2 separate regions of the Homo sapiens genome follow, and region 1 is linked to region 2. Evidence: fine-mapped expression QTL. A gene starts in region 2. The other region holds a variant in brackets. All regions are shown on one strand. Distances are between the middles of the regions. Region 1 overlaps COTL1 (coactosin like F-actin binding protein 1). Region 2 holds the start of COTL1 (coactosin like F-actin binding protein 1).

Evidence for each region.
Region 1: its variant is fine-mapped to the expression of COTL1 in thyroid (GTEx, PIP above 0.99). The same link has a PIP of 0.9 or more in tibial artery.

The regions. Positions count from the first base shown.
Region 1 is chr16:84,571,550-84,574,556 of GRCh38, reverse strand. All of the region lies in intron 3 of COTL1 (coactosin like F-actin binding protein 1), which reads left to right. Among named protein-coding and RNA genes, the nearest start is that of COTL1, 45 kb to the left of the region's middle. RefSeq lists an enhancer at 1,702-2,234. The variant G/A (reference allele first, on the strand shown) is at 1,213.
Region 2 is chr16:84,616,590-84,619,089 of GRCh38, reverse strand. COTL1 (coactosin like F-actin binding protein 1) reads left to right here and starts at 1,012. Exons shown (of 4, transcript NM_021149.5): 1 at 1,012-1,252; 2 at 1,507-1,589. The coding sequence starts at 1,176. RefSeq lists silencers at 754-1,113, 1,134-1,183.

The sequences.
Region 1 (3,007 bases), 45 kb after region 2:
AATTCCAAACCATTCAAGCAGCTTCAGCCGCTTGGAGTGAGACTTCGTCGGATGAGGCCCTTGGAAGAAAATCCTGCTTTGGCAAGAAAAGAGAAGTCCCCCGTCTGGCAGCTATGAGAGAGCGACACCGAGTTCCCAGACAAAACAAAGAGCTTTCTTCAGCCACAGGTGACGGTGCCCCCAGACTGACACATGTTGCTGTGCAGTCTCTGGCAGGTTGTGGCAGCTGCCTCGAGGGCTTGGCAGTCTAGAGCAGCCCCTGGAGGCGGGATGTGGGGAGAAAGTGGGGCTGGCACCAGGAACGCATCCCCAGGGCCCTGCCGGGAAGTTGCTGTGTCCCCTGGGATGAACTGCGTCCCCTCTCTGGGTTGTTGCTGGTCCTCTACATAATGAAGAGGTGAATGGCAGGTCTCAAGGGTGGAGTGCAGTGGTGCGATCATGGCTCACGGCAGCCTCGACCTCCCAGGCTCAAGTGATCTTCCTGCCTCAGCCTCCCAAGTAGCTGGGACAACAGGCGCACACCACCACTGTTGGCTATTTATTACTATTATTATTATTATTATTTGTAGAGAAAGGGTCCCACTGTTCCCCAGGCTAGTCTTGGAACTCCGGGGTTCAAGCGATTCTCCCTTCTCGACCTCCCAAAGTGCTTGGGATTACCGGCGTGAGCCACAGCGCCCCACCTCCCTTCACTATTTTGTTCAGCTGAAACACAATTTACATAGAGTAAAACGCAGAGATCTTCGGAATACTACTCGTTGAGTGTGTGTGTGTGTGTGTGTGTGTGTATGTATATATATATATTTTTTTTTTTTTGAGACAGAGTTTCGCTCTTGTCACCCAGGCTGGAGTGCAATGGTGCGATCTAAGCTCACTGCAACTTCCGCCTCCCCGGTTCAAGCGATTCTCCCGCCTCTCACACCCAGCTAATTCTTTGTATTTTTAGTAGAGATGGGGTTTCACCATGTTGGCCAGGCTGGCCTTGAACTGCTGACCTCAGGTGATCCACTCACCTCGGCCTCCCAAAGTGCTGGGCATGAGCCACTGCATCTGGCCCAAGTTTTGTGTATTTTGAATGTTCATGATGCATACCTTTGAAGCCACCACCCAGATCTGGACATGGCGCAGATGTCCACCCCTGTCGGATGGGCTCTAATGCTCTGCGATTCATGATTCTGTTTGCCTGATCACATTATTCTTTCAGACGCTTTC[G/A]TGTTCTGTCTAGACCTGCGCTGTTGCTGGCCACGTGTGGCCACTGAGCGCCTGAAAGCGCACCCAGCCATATCAGTGTGTGCCGTATACCCGGAGGGCACACAGCGTTTCTAAGGCTGGGTTCAAAAGAAATGAATGTAAAGGACCTCGTCAGTACCTTTTAGCATTGATTACATTGTGGAAATGACAATATTTTGCATATATTGGATTAGATAAAATACTATTAAAATAAATGGCACTGGTTTCTTTCTTACATTTTTCAATGTGGCTAGTAGCAAATTGAAAATTCCCGGCCAGGCAAAGTGGCTCACGCCTGTAATTCTAGCACTTTGGGAGGCCGAGGTCAGTGGATCACTTCATCTCAGGAGTTTGAGACCAGCCTGGGCAACATGGTAAAACCCCATTATCTACCAAAAAAAAAAAAATTAGTCGGGCATGGTGGTGTGTACCTGTAGTCCCGGCTACTTCGGTGGCTGAGGTGGTAGGATTGCTTGAGCACAGGCGGTGGAGGTTGCAGTGAGCTGAGATTGCACCAGTGCCCTCCAGCCTGGCAGCGTGGGTGACAGAGTGAGACCTGTCTAAGAAAAAAAAGGAAAGAAAGAAAATTCAAAATTCTGGCCTTTGGGAGGCCAAGATGGGTGGATCGCTTGAGCCCAGGAGTTGGAGACCAGCCTGGGCAACATGACGAAACCACGTCTCTACAGAAAAATACAAAAATCAGCTGGACGTGGTGGCTTGTGCCTGTATTTCTAGCTATTAGGAAGGCGGAGGTGGGAGGATCGCTTGAACCTAGGAGGTTGAGCCTGCAGTGAGCCGAGATCGCACCACTGCACGCCAGCTTGGGTGACAGAGTGAGACTGTGTTTCAAAAAAAGAGAAATTAACATTCTGTGTGTGTCCGCATTGCTCTAGGCCCTGGAAGTCTCCTTCTGATGAAGGACTTGCCTCCTGAGTCTTGCCACCTGCCCCTGCCCCCGTGGGTGTTGGTGGCATGTGGGTGCTGGCAAGTGCTGTGTCTTGAGGTGTGTGTGGTGTAGGGGTGGCCACGCTTTGCATGCATATGTTCCCTCTGGTTTCCAGCCTCAGGTGCAAGGCAGACTTCAGCTGCTCCACGCAGGCTCCCTCCAGTTTCAGGCATTGCTCCCAAGTCAGAGTCTGTCTGCCCAGAGCTGTTTTGCTCAGCTTCTGCCTCGTTTTGAAAACATGCAATGAAGCCCACTCCCCAGTGGTGCTTGCAACTCCCTTATCTCATGGGAGCCGCTGGAAGGCGTGGAGGTGGAGAGGTGTGGAGGTTGTTGTCAGTTGGTTTTTAGGCTGAGGCTCAGGTTAGACATTTTGGGGACATTCTGTGGAGTCCACGCCCTGAATGGAAGGTGCTGGCTCACCTTTGTAAGCCTCTGGGGGCTTGGGAGCACCCCGTGTAGGATGGAGGCCTGCTAGTACCCCCTCCATGCGGCCTGACCACCTGGGCCCCTGCAGAGTTGCTGCTGGCCCTATAGAAGGTGGGAGCGGCTCGGTGTCCACTCAGGAGCAGGCTGGGGTCCAGCTCTGGCTGCAAGGGAACTGACCACTGTTGGTCACAGGCCCGTCTCACCGTCTCACCCATGTGTCCACGTGACGTCCAGGCAATGGGCCCGTGCATGACCAGTCTGCCGGTGAGGTGACAGCGGGGAGCCGATCCCAGGGGGATGATTGGATGGAGATGTAGACACTTTATTTGGAAGGTGCTAGGAGTCACTGCCAGGCTCAAAGAACGGGGAAGGGGTGGACAAGACACAGGAGCAGCACGAGGAGGA
Region 2 (2,500 bases):
AATGAATGAATGAGTCAGTGAAGGAATGAGGAAGACAGAATGAGTCAGCTCGTGCTTTCAGAGGAGCCCAAAGGGAGAGGTTAAGATAGGAATGCAAATGACCAGAATCCAGAGTAAACGCGAGCCCACCAGCGTTTTGGAAGCAGTCCACTTTCTACCCCCTCCTATTTAAAATGCTTCATTCTTTCCAGTTCCTCCCCACCTAGAATCCATGGAACCAAACGCTGGGGTAGGGACAGTGGCCAGCCTGTCTCCTTGGGTTTGACGCATTACATCATCCACGTGGAGGTCCCCTGTGGAGCTCTGCAGCCCTGCAGCCTCAGGGGCAGGGGGGTGGGGAGAATGAGGAAGGGGGAGAGGGGGAATAGGAGGAGGGAGTAGGGGACAGGGAGGGAGGAGATGCCAGGAGGGTAAGTGGAGAAGAGGGAGGCGAAGCCGGGGGCAGCAGGGGAGGGGGTCAAGGAGGAGGAAAGAGGAGAGCTTGGGGAGAAGGAAATAGGGAGGATGGAGAAGTTTTGGGCTGGGATAGGCAAGAAGAGGGAGGAGGAGAGAGGAAGAAGAATAAAGGGGGAAGGGAGAAAGAGGGGGAGGGAAGGGAGGGGGAAGAGGTCAGGGAAGTGGGGGAAGCAAGCAGTGGGGGAAGAAGAGGAAGGAGGAGGGAGAGGAGGAAGGCGGGGTGGGAAAGGGGGTTGGGGTAGTGGGAGTTTCCAGGGAGGGGTCGGGAGGGGAGGAGGGGAAGTGAGAAGGAGAAGGAGAGAGAAGAGGGATGTTGGGGGAGAAGAGAGCGGGAGGGAGGAGGGAGAGTGAGAGGGAGGAGGCAAAGCCCCTACTCCAGCCCCCACCGCGGAGTTGCGCAAGCCTTCCGGTCTGGGATTGGCCGCCAGAGAATCAAGACGCTCCGCCCCCGCAGCCCGACGGCCAATGAAGAGGCGGGCCGCCGCCTGGGCGGCCAATGGGCGCGGGGGGGCGGGGCGGGCCACGGCCTGGGGTCCCCGCGCGCTCTCCGTCCGCAGTGGAAGCCGCCGCCGCGCTCGCAGCTTGCAGGCGCCGCGTAGCCGTCGCCACCGCCGCCAGCCCGTGCGCCCTCGGCGCGTACCCGCCGCGCTCCCATCCCCGCCGCCGGCCAGGGGCGCGCTCGGCCGCCCCGGACAGTGTCCCGCTGCGGCTCCGCGGCGATGGCCACCAAGATCGACAAAGAGGCTTGCCGGGCGGCGTACAACCTGGTGCGCGACGACGGCTCGGCCGTCATCTGGTAGGAACTTTTCATTCGTCTCCACGCCCCGCTCCCCGGGCTCGCGCGGGGCCTCGTGCACCGAGCCGGCCTCCAGGCGGGACGGATTCGGGCCTCCCGCGCTGTCTTCCTCGCCTTATTCCGGGACGGCGTGCCAGGCCCCCGCGGGCTTCTCCGTGGCCAGCGCGTCTGTTAGATTGTCCTCTGCAAGCGCCGCGTCGCGCGGCCACCAGCGCTGATGTGTGTGTGTGTTTTTTTCTTCTCCCAACCCAAAGGGTGACTTTTAAATATGACGGCTCCACCATCGTCCCCGGCGAGCAGGGAGCGGAGTACCAGCACTTCATCCAGCAGTGCACAGGTAGGGAGGCGCGCCTGCCGGGCGGATGCGCGGTCGTTGGGAGGTTGTCTGCACCCGGGGAGCCCCGGCCAGAGCGAACCCGGGAGGAACCGGTGGCCACATGGGGTGCCCCTGGCGCATGGCGTGGGAGGAACCCGGTGTGAGCGTTTTAAGGCCTCATAAAACCTTCTCCCCTCTGGACATCCGAAGCAACAGAAGTGACCCACCTGCCTCCGCCATCCTACAATGCCTTCTCCAGGCGGGGCAGCTCTTTTGCCCCCTGCGGTCCACTGGTTTTCTAAGGTCAACTCCTGTGTTTCCAAACTCCAGTGTCCATCCAGCTCTTCCCACTGTCCCCTTTGATCAGTCACTGAGCCCAAATACGAACAGGCTAGGGGGCTGCTTGGAAGGGAAAGAAACTCAGCCGCGCCCTCCTTTCTCCCGCTATCATTGTCTGCCCGTGTGCTGATTTTATGTGATTTTTAATTTGACGAGTAGAATCAGATGCAAAAGAGTACACACCATATGATTCCATTTAGAAATCCTAGACAAGGCGAAACTAATCTATGGTGTGAATGTCAGAATCGAGATTAGCTTTTGGGGCTAGATAGCCACTGATGGGGAGGGGCACACCACCCGGACTGCTGGGAGCTGAAAATGTCTCTGTAGACATTTGTTGATCTGGGAGGGGGTTATGCAGGTGTGTACCCGCGTGAAAAATCATCAGACTGTATACTTAAGATTTGTGTGCCTTAGGCACTTCCCTGTGGCTTGTGAACCATGAAAAGAAAGACCACGTGGCAGGCATCGCCATAAACCCTTCGGTAGTGGCAGAGGCTCTGTGATGTTGGTAATGGGACCTTTTAAAGAGATTGGAGAATGCGACTCCCTCCCATCTCTGGTCTTTAGTTGGAAGCAAGCTTTCGGACAAC